Linked DNA regions of Homo sapiens: region 2 is linked to region 1. A link means that fine-mapping ties the variant in region 1 to the expression of a gene that starts in the linked region. Tissue or cell type: whole blood. Region 1 holds a variant in brackets; the other region holds the start of a gene. All regions are shown on one strand. Distances are between the middles of the regions.

Region 1 (5,200 bases):
AGATATTGATAATACTTATTGCACTGGAATTCATGCCAAGTGCTTTGTATCACTGATCTTATTTGTTCTGCTCCAGAAAACACCTCTGTAAGTATCATTGCTCTCAATTCACAGGTGAAGTGTCTGGGACCCAGTGCAGTTAAATCAGGGGTCAAATCTAGCCACCGCTTGTTTTTGTATGGCCTGAGAGCCAAGAATGGCTTTAATATTTCTTACCGGCTAAAGAAAATCAAATGAAGGGTATTTTGTGCCATGCAAAACTTATATGAAGTCCAATTGTCGTGTTTTAAATAAAGTTTTATTGACATACAGTCATGCTCCTCATTTACAACTTTGCTTGTGGCTGTTTTCAGGCTACAACAGCAGAGCCAAGGAGTTGTGATGGAGACCCTATGGCCTGCCAAATGAAATATATTGACCATCTGGCTCTTCATAGGAAATGTTTGTGGCCCAGTGCAGTGGTTCCGTCCTGTAATCCCAGCACTTTGGGAGGCCAAGGCAAGTGATTGTTTGAGGTCAGGAGTTCAAGACCAGCCTGGTCAACGTGGCAAAACCATATCTCTACTTAAAAAATACAAAAATTAGCCAGGCGTGGTGGCGGGCACCTGTAATCCCAGCTACTGGAGAGGCTGAGGCAGGGGAATCACTTGAACCTAGGAGGCAAAACTGCAGTGAGCCAAGATCACACCACCGTACTCCAGCCTGGGTGACACAGTGAGACTCTGTCTCAAAAAAAAAAAGTTGGGGGAAATGTTTGAGACCCCTGGATTAGCTGGCTTGTCCGGAGCTAGTGAACAGTAGTCCTGGGATTCTAGTCCAGGCAATCTGGCTTTACCACCTCAGTCCAGTGCTTTACTGGGAGGCTGTGCTGCTCGCCGAGGCCATTTCTCATGTTTCAGTTACCAGAAGAGTCAGGGACTTTTGCAGCATAGGCAGGAATACTCCCATTCCGGTCAACCCTAAGACATCTTCCCTTTTAGCCTTACGCAAACACAGAAGTGGAAGTCCATTTTAAGACTTTCGCTTTTTTCTTCACCATAGTCACTTTGGAACACACACTTGGCTCTATTTTTGCCCAACCTAGTGTGCTAATCACAGGCCATTTGGTAGCCAGGAAGAAAACCTACTTATGTTTTAGAAAAGAGGGCTCATGGGAAACAGGTAGGGGTGTCCCAGGACCCCCGTTTTAGGAAGAACAGTCAGACTTCAAAAGACCTACAAATTTTTCTGGCAATTACTCTCTGTGGAGTCCCTTGTCTCTTGTTTTCTCTTGACATTTGGGCCCTTCTCCTCTGTGCATAATGATGTCCTCTGCCATTCCCTTTATTTTAATCCCCTTACAAAGTGTTGGCTTCCATGTGACTCCTAGGCACGTCTTCATTTGTTACCCTTCATACCTTGGGAATCTTCTAAAATGCATCTGTTGTTATGATCCCAAGAAAATGTTTATAAAATACAAACACAAATGTTTATAAAGTACAAATGAACATATCACCCTTCTGATTAAAGATCTTCAGTGATTCTCCATCTCATCCCCATCCTCCTGGTGTGGGATGCTGGAGTGTAGCAGTCCCCAACATTTTTGGCACCAGGGACCAGTTTCATAAAAAACAATTTCTCCATGGGGTGGCGGGGTAGATGGTTTCAGGATGATTTAAGCACATTGCATTTATTGTAGACTTTATTTCTATTATTATTATTACATTGTAATACACAATGAAATAATTATACAACTCACAATGATGTAGAATCCGTGGGAGCCCTGAGCTTGCTTTCCCGCAACTAGACAGTCCCATCTGGGAGTGATGGGAGACAGTGACAGATCATCAGGCATTAGATTCTCATAAGGAGCACACAACCCAGATCCCTGGCATGCACAGTTCACAGTAGGGTTCACACTGTTATGAGAATCTAATGCCGCCACTAATCTGACAGGAGGCAGAGCTCAGGCAGTAATGCCAGCAATGGGGAGTGGCT[A/G]TAAATACAGATGAAGCTTCTCTTGCTCACCTGCCAGTCACCTGCTGTGCAGCCCACTTCCTAACAGGCCACAGACCGGTATCGGTCTGTGTATTGGTCTATGGCCTGGAGGTTGGGGACCCCTGCTGTAATGTGAAGTCAGGAGCTGTGGTAGCTTTCTTGGAGCCATGAAGTGGCAATCCCCAGGAAAAAAAGTCACCATATTAGGGATAAAAAAGAGAAAAGATTAAAATGAATGTAGTTCTTGATGATATTTTCCAGATATAACCTAACCTAGTATTACCCTCTTGCAAAATTCTTGTAAAGTAAACCATAAATTTCGTCTTGGTTCTAAGCTAAGCTTGTCCAGCCCATGGCCTAAGATGGCTTTGAATGCAGCCCAACACAAATTCATAAACTTTCTTAAAACATTATCAGATTTTTGGGGGATTTTTTTTTTTTTTTTTTTTTTTAGCTCATCAGGTATCGTTAGTGTTAGTGTATTTTATGTGTGGCCCAAGACAATTCTTCTTCTTCCAGTGTGGCCCAGGGAAGGCAAAAGATTGGACACCCCTTGTTGAAGCCATTGTTAGGTGTAATTGTAAATTATAAATTACTTAGAATTAAAAACAGCCCGGCTCATGCCTGTAATCCCAGCATTTGGGGAGGCTGAGGCAGGAGGATCACTAAACCCAGGGGTCTGAGACATGCCTGGGCAACGTAGCAGGATACTGTCTCTAAAAGAAAAGAAAAAACAGTCTTAATGCAACAATGCCTTGGTAATAATGCTTTTAGAATCAGTGTCGTTATCTCTGATTCTGTAACTGTCTTACCATATTTCTCCATATCACTCTGATACCCTTGGAAGGATGCTTAACATTTCAGAAAAACGGTTATTTCTTTGGGCTAGAAGACTACAAATGAGCTTCCACAAGATCAGAGGATTATGGGGTTAATCTTGGTGGTGTGCATGGGTGTGGACGCGCTGTCCTGCCAACTGTCTCAACTTCCCCCACTCCCTTACCTCTCTCTGTGTTTCTGGTCTCCATCCCTCATGACTTCTTCTCTTCCTTTCATTGCCTCCCTCTGATTCTTCTCACCACAGTGCTTGCTGCTTTCTTTACCTTGACCCTTGGAGGGAGCAGGGGCCCGGACACTTGGATTTCTTGGCCCTTGTTGTTGAGAGCACTGAACCTCTGCATCCCACAGAGACTGAGGCTGAGAAATACAGTCAGGTACATGAGTTTCTAAACAGGCCCAGCCCACTGTCCTAATGCCATTAAAGCAGACAGTATATTGGTGTATTCTTGGGGCCATCAAAAATCAGAAGAAGCTCAGACTTCCTATTTCCTGCTACCCAGCTGGTTTTAGTTCCTTTACCCCTCCTCCTGTTCCTTGGTGTATGTTTTGCTGCAATCATTAGAGCCTGAGTCACTCTCCCCAGGAGACCCAGACCTAGAACTACCCAGAGCAAGACCACAGCTGGTGAACAGTCCAGGTAAGAAACATATTCTGGGGGACTGGGTAGCTTGACATAGACACACTTAATACACTGGTGAACACAATAGACTCTTTGTTTGAAGAAGGATGTGGAGTTGAAGAATAATTTTTTTAAAGAGGTTCTAAACAGGCCGGGCACGGTGACTCATGCTTGTAATCCCAGCACTTTGGGAGGCCAAGGCAGGTGGATAACTTGAGGTCAGGAGTTCGAGACCAGCCTGGCCAACATGTTGAAACCTCACTTCTATTAAAAATACAAAAATTAGCCAGGCGTGGTGGTGGGCGTCTGTAATTCAAGCTACTTGGGAGGCTGAGGCAGGAGAATTGCTTGAATCTGGGAGGTGGAGGTTGCAGTGAGCTCAGATTGCACCACTGTACTCCAGCCTAGGTGACAGAGTGAGACTCCATCTCAAATAAATAAGTAAATAAATAAATAAACAAATAGGCTCTAGACTTTATTGGGGTCCTGATGGGAATGATGGAATATAGAGACACTATGAGGCTGCAGGAGAGAGAAGGGATAAGTGAAGGAGGGAAGTTCTTGAGTAAATGGGGGAATGAGTTTTATGGGACCAGTAGAGGGTAATTCTTGGATGGAAACACTTGTTTTCTGGTTACAGAGATGAGGGCAGAGAACAGTGATGCAGGAGCCAGCAGGAGGAGAATCTGGTGGAGCAAGAGGCAAGGGCATCAGCTTGAGGGCTTGAGTCGGGATGGGAAAGGATGTTTGGTTTGAAGCTTTCAGGAGAAAGCAAAAGAGCCCTAACGACTTTATGATGGGTCATGGGGAAATGAGTGTAATACAGAAGCAGTCACCTTTCGGATCAGTGATGAGTCTCCACGTGAAGACACTGGTTCTGCATGGTGCATAGGACCCAGTAGCGGAATACAGCCCTGCCCTCTCATGAATCTGCAGACATTGGCTGTCATTTCTCATCAAGCTCCTAGTTTCCTCTTCCGTCACACAGGGATGATGATGTATAATCAATGCTGAGTTTGTTGAGATCAGAGGCAAGAAAGTTGAGGATGTGGTACAATGATTATCAAGCATAAAGTCCTTCATCGATGGCAGCCACCAAGGCCTGTGTTCATTGCAAATCACAGGATTTTTCCCTTGAACCATAATTGGACAAAATTGCACAGGTTTTCCTCTCTGGTATGTTCCAGCTCATTATTGCAGAATCCTCATCATTCATTGCAACAATCTTCTGAACTGGTTGCCTTAGAGATTCTTGAGGACAAAGAGTCCTCAGGGTATTTTGGTGGTTGGATGGGTGGTAGGGGAGGGAGACATCTCTGAGTTGTTTCTGAGATTGTAGAGTATCAAAGTTCATTAGAAATGTGAGACACATATGTAATTTCAAAGTGTCAAGTAGGCACTTTAAAAAGGTGAAGAGAAACATGCGAACTTAATTTTAATAAAATATCTAACCTAAACTTAAATAGCCAAATTATTATCATTTTAACATGTAGTCAATATAAAAACTATTAATGAGATGGTCACAATATTTTTTTCATACTAAGTCTTTGAAATCTGATGGGTATTTTACTCCTACAGCCTGTCTCCAGTTGGACTAGCCACAATTCAAGTGCTTGAAAACCACATGTGGTGAGTGACTAGTGCATTAGACAGCTCTTCTGTGCCAGTAGCGTGGCAGGGCAGAGGCAGAAAGAGACTTTTGCTGGAATTCGACAGCCTGGGCTGTTGGGTGACTTTAAGGAATTAACTGAAATGCTCTAAGTC
Region 2 (5,108 bases), 60 kb after region 1:
TTCAAAAGCTTCTGTAACAAGGCAGCCTATGTGGGGAGAAAGGGCATTTCTTGGAATCCTGCACACCCCCACATGGAGAGGTTTAGGGCCTCAGGTCTCCCTTTAGGGTGGAGATGGGGAGAGCCACAGCTGAGGCCTTCTCCAGGCTGGCCCTGGATGCCCCCTGGGTGGATGGGAACCTTCCCTCTTCCGGGATTGTTGACAGGACGCTTGGAGGGCAAAGCAGGAAGCAAAAGGAGCGACTGTGGGTGTGGGAATAAGCCCTGAGCTCCTGGACCTAAGAGGAAGCCAGTTTATTCTATAGCGCAGGGCTCTGTAACTCCTGCAACTCCGAGCCTCCACAGTTCCAGGGTCTGGCACCTCGTGGGGATCATGGCCATGGTGATCAGGCATGATTACCGCCCATGCTGCCCATCGGCATTGCGTGGCCCCCAGCCCTGAGGTCTCTTCGCACAGCCACACACCTCAAGGCTGTCACATGTGCCTGTCTCACCAGGACAGTCACACCTTGTCTCTTTTCACTGCTGTCACCTGAGTGATCCACTCTGCTGTTCCTGTTTTCCCGCCCTCTAATTGCCTCACACCTCAAAAATGTGGAATCACTTTATAAGAAATCTGTGTGTGTGTGTGAGTGTGAGTGTATGTCTCTGAGCGTGTCTGTGTGCGAGTGTGTGTGTGTTCTATCCTAGAGGAAGATGCCTTCCCTAAGATCAGGCTCATCAGGCAGCCCCAACCCCTGCACTGAGCTCCATGGCCATCCTAGGAGGCAAGAAGATTGTCCCACTTTACAGATGGGTAAGTTGAGGCCAGGAGAGGGGCAGTGACACACCCAGAACTTCATAGCCAGTAAGAGTGTGAGCCATGCAGCCATGGCAGAACCTATGCCTACCCGACCCCATCTGGACTTCCAGCTCTAGGCAATTTCTGCAGCGTCCCTTCCCCCTCACCACCTTCAGCCCCTGGCTCTTAGAGCTGCCTTCAGCCTTCGTTTGGACAAGTAGCTGAGCTCAATGTCTTCCCAGCTTTCCCCTCCCGGATCACTGCCCAACTCTGGGGGCCTCCTTCCTCTGCCCTGGGCCCTCCCACATACCCATTTCTTAGGGGCTCCAAGTCCACATCTCCCATCTCCCCATCCCCACACACTCACCCTGGGCAGCAGCCAGCTCCTGCAGGGCATGGGTCATCTGGGTGAAGGTGTCATGCAGGTGGCTTCTCTCATCATAGTCTGGCGGTGAGGGAGGGAGCAGGGGCTGGGGGAGGCAGCTCCCCGCAACACCATGTCCCTAATGCGAACATTCTGTTTCTGAGTCTCTGCCCTCCCAAGTCTGTATCCTCCCCTCTCTGACTCTTTGCCCCACAGTCGCTATGCTTCCTGAGTCCCTCCCAAGTCTCTATCCTCCCTGAGTCTCTGCCCCCGACCAGTCGCTATCCTGCTTCCCCTAGTCTCTGCCTCATCTCTGTCCTCCTCTCTCTGGGTTTCCATCCTCTTTGAGTCTCCATCTTCCACCCTCTGAGTCTCCATCCTCCCCTCTCTGGGTCTCTATTCCCTCTCCAGTCTCCAACCTCTCCTGACTCTCCATCCTCCCCTTTCTATGAGTCTCCATCCTCCTGACTCTCCATCCTCCCGAGTGTCCATCCTCCCCTCTCTGACTCTCCATACTCCTGAGTCTCCATCTTTCCGAGTCTCCATCTTCCTCTCTCTCTGAGTCTCCATCCTCCCCCTCTCTGAGTCTCCATCTTCCCCTCTCTGACTCTCCATCCTCCCCTCTCTGAGTCTTTGCCCTGCTGTCTTCCCCTGTCTGTGTCTCTCTGTCCCTAAGTCTCTGTTGTTCTCATGGTCTTTGAGCCTTTCTCCTCTGACTGTTTCTCTCTGTCTGTCCCTCAGCCTGACCCTCTGGGCCTCTCCTGCCCTCCCTCTGCACCTTCCCCAGGACACTGATGAAGTGTGGATGGTCTCCTCACTGATTTCGGTGTCAGAGAGGCCCTGGAAGGCGGCCGTGAAGGCCTCCTCACACTCTTCAAGCTTGGGGCTCCGCATCCCAACAAACATCTGGCAGATGCGGAGGCGCTCAGAGTAGGTTGTGAAGCAGAGGAGACAGGCCCAGGCGGGCACCCTGAAGACAGCCAGGGCCAGCAGGGCAGACGGGACGGCACTGGCCAGAGCCAGCAGGGCCATCGTGTGGGTCTCAAGGCCAGGGGAGAAGCTAGTAACCTTTATGAAGTCACCACAGGGCGGGGGAAGGGCCAGTGGTCTGGGGTCAGAGGTCAGGTTTCAGTTGGTGGTCAAATGTCATGCTCTGGAGGAAGGGTATGAGGAGTCAGGGGTCAGAAGTCAGGCCAGCAATTCCCCAGGTGTGTGGTTGGGCCAGACGCCAGGCTCCCAAGAACCTCACCTGTGACCCTGGATGTCCTCACAGGTTAAAGGGTCTCAGGGACCTAGAGACTGGCAACATGGTGTGCGGTGGCCCGGTAGACCCTGGGGTGGGGGTCAGAGATGGAGATAGGCACAGAGACATTCTGAGAGCCAGAGACAGAAAGACCAAAAACGACAGAAATAGAGACACAGAGAGATATCGGGAGGGGCAGAGACCTAGAAAGCCAGAATAAGAGGGAGTCAGAGGATCCACTGTGAAAGAGACACAGAAGCCACAGAGACACAGCAGAGATGGAGACAGACAGGGAAGGAAAACAGATTTCAGGGGAAGGAGGGGATGCAGGGACAAGGACAGAAAAGAGCCCGGCTCTTCCTCCCAGGGTCCCTGGGGCAGCCCAGTGGGGCTAAGGGTCCCTGAGTGGGGCTGGGGGTCCCCGCCGGGCCCCGTCCCGTGCAGGGCGCAGCCTGGGGAAAGCTAGGAGGCCGTATAGTGATCTCCTTGGGTGTCCTCCTCAACTATACAACCTCCTACCTCAGCCCGGGGGGCGCGGCAGGTGGACAGACCCGACAGACAGACAGACAGGGACCAGGAGGACCAGGGATGAGGGGGAGGGCCGGGGAGGCCCCAGCCGCGATGGTGAGCCCCCGACACGGACCCACAGACACGAGCTTGTGTGCGGCGAAGGCCCCGCAAGGTCGGTTCTACGGGTGGGTGCCAGGACCCAGGAGTCCGGGCCCCCGGCCCCTCCTCCCCAAGGAACCCAGGAGTCCAGGCCCTCAGCCCCTTCCTCATCAGGGACCCTGGAGTCAAGGCTCTCATCCCCCTCCTCCCTAAAGAACCCAGAAGTCTAGGCCCTTCCTCACCACAGACCCAGGAATCCAGGCCTCTGGCCCTTTTCTCCCCAAATGTTCCTGGAATCCAAGGACTCAGCCCCTTCCTCCCTCAGACTCATGAGTCCAGATCCAAAGCCTCCTTCTCCCCAGAGACCCAGGAGTCCCTGCCCCCAGCCCCTCCTCCCTCCGGCCAGGCAGGCCTCCTGGGGAAGGCATGGCCTGATAGAAAACCTGGCTTCCTGGGTGCCGGCTGGGAGGGAACCTCATTTGTCTCGTAATTTGGCCCTTTGGGCACACCTGCTTCCTACCTACCCTCCTGTCAGTCTGCAGAGACTCCAGGCCCAGGGCTAAGGAGGCCAGGGGCTAGCCAACCATCAGAGCCTCCCTAGGTGCTTTCTTTCCTCTCTCCTCCCTTCTTTGGGTCATTTACAACTATGACAGCCACAATCTCCCAGCGCTGACCCCATACCAGGCCCTGAGCACCAGTCCTCTCCCTGACACCTCCCACTCCAGAGAGCGAGGTGCCCTCAGCATCCCCATTTGGCAGGTGAGGGGGCTGAGCCTCAGAGAGGGGAAGAGGCTCCCAAAGTCTGCCCAGCCCCATCTCTGTCCTCCCTCTTGAATCCAGGAGGTGTCCCCAGCCTTCTCCAGCTTCTGGACCCCGGGACCCAGCACCCACCCTCCCCACCCCTGGGCTCTGAGCCCCTCCAGCTGGGGTCTCTCCCGTGCCCAGCCCCTCCTCCTGGACTGTCTGGTTCTCGCTGCCCCTGCTCCAGGCGCACCTTCCGGTTCCTTTCTCGCAGTCCAGGTCTCTCTGGCCCTGCCTTTTTCTCTCTCCCTCTTTCTTTCCACCTTCCCTGGTTCCCAGCCTCCTCCTGCATCAGGACATCCCTCCCTGGCTCTGCGCTGGCTTCTCTCTCTGCCCATCGCCTCTCTCCTCTCCCCGCTTCTGTTTTCTTCCTTCTCTCCCCCTCTTTCTCCTGCTTTTCCTCTACCTTCTGTCTTTCATCCTCCCCTTCTCCCCCTTCCCCCTCTTTGTCTCTCTCATTCTCTCTCTGGCCCTCTCTCAGTCTCTCTCCTCTTTCTCACCCTTCTCCACCCCCTTTTTTCGGATGTCTTTCCTCACTTCCTCTCCCTCCGCCCCTTCCCTCTCTCCATCCCTCACCTCCGTCTCCTGCTCTCTCTCAGTCTCTGTCTCTCTCCCTCTCTCTCTCCTTCCCTCCCTCTTAGGTCTCTCTCTTTCCTCCCCTCCCCCTTCTCTCTTTGGGTCTCCCTCCCTTCTCTCTCTCTCTTTTCTCCTTCCCTCTCTCCCTCCCCCTCGCAGCTCGAGCCAGGTCTGGAGCTGGGGGTGGGGTGGGGGTGGTTTGAGAAGGGGCCCAGGGCTGGGGTAGCGACCTGAGGAGGGGGAGGAGAGGCGGGAAAGGGGCGGAGGAGGAAAGGGGGAGGCGGGGGCCGGAGACGGGTCTACGGCCAGCTCTCTTCCCCCTTCCCTCCTTCCCAACCTCCCAGACCCTCAGGCGGGGGCGAGAGTCAGGCCAAGGTGGGGAGGAAGGGGAAGGGAGGAGGCTGCCCCCGCCCCCACCCCCCCACACCAACCTGGCCCGGAGCCCAGGCCTGGGTTCCCAGCATGCCCCGGGGCTGCCTGGGGCCTGAGGAGGAGGGTGAGGGGAGAGGGGAAGCCGAGAATCTCAGAGATTCCCCGGACCTAAGCATCTCCCCCACCCGCCAACCAGTGTCTCCTTGGGGAAACTGAGGCGGAGAGAGAAGGGTCAGGACTTGTTCAAGGTCACTGGACAAGGCGTTGGTGGAAACGCGAACTCCCTGGGCCCATAGCCCCGCTTTGGGGAAGGGGTAGGCTCTGGACTTCCCCCAGGCCTAGGTCCCCCTCCCCCTCTCTGCG

The links. PIP is the estimated chance that this variant, and not a neighbour inherited with it, causes the effect.
Region 2: it holds the start of SPACA6, and the variant in region 1 is fine-mapped to the expression of SPACA6 in whole blood (INTERVAL, PIP above 0.99).

What each region holds. Positions count from the first base shown.
Region 1 is chr19:51,750,068-51,755,267 of GRCh38, reverse strand. It overlaps FPR1 (formyl peptide receptor 1), which reads left to right and starts at 3,390. Exons shown (of 2, transcript NM_002029.4): 1 at 3,390-3,454. The variant A/G (reference allele first, on the strand shown) is at 1,978.
Region 2 is chr19:51,690,595-51,695,702 of GRCh38, reverse strand. It overlaps SPACA6 (sperm acrosome associated 6), which reads right to left and starts at 2,373. Exons shown (of 9, transcript NM_001316972.2): 1 at 1,963-2,373; 2 at 1,148-1,225. The coding sequence starts at 2,176. It overlaps SPACA6-AS1 (SPACA6 antisense RNA 1), which reads left to right and starts at 2,247. Exons shown (of 2, transcript NR_108100.1): 1 at 2,247-3,069. MIR99B (microRNA 99b) reads right to left here and starts at 3,091; the gene lies at 3,022-3,091. It overlaps MIRLET7E (microRNA let-7e), which reads right to left and starts at 2,917; the gene lies at 2,839-2,917. It also overlaps MIR125A. RefSeq lists enhancers at 4,098-4,907, 4,908-5,108.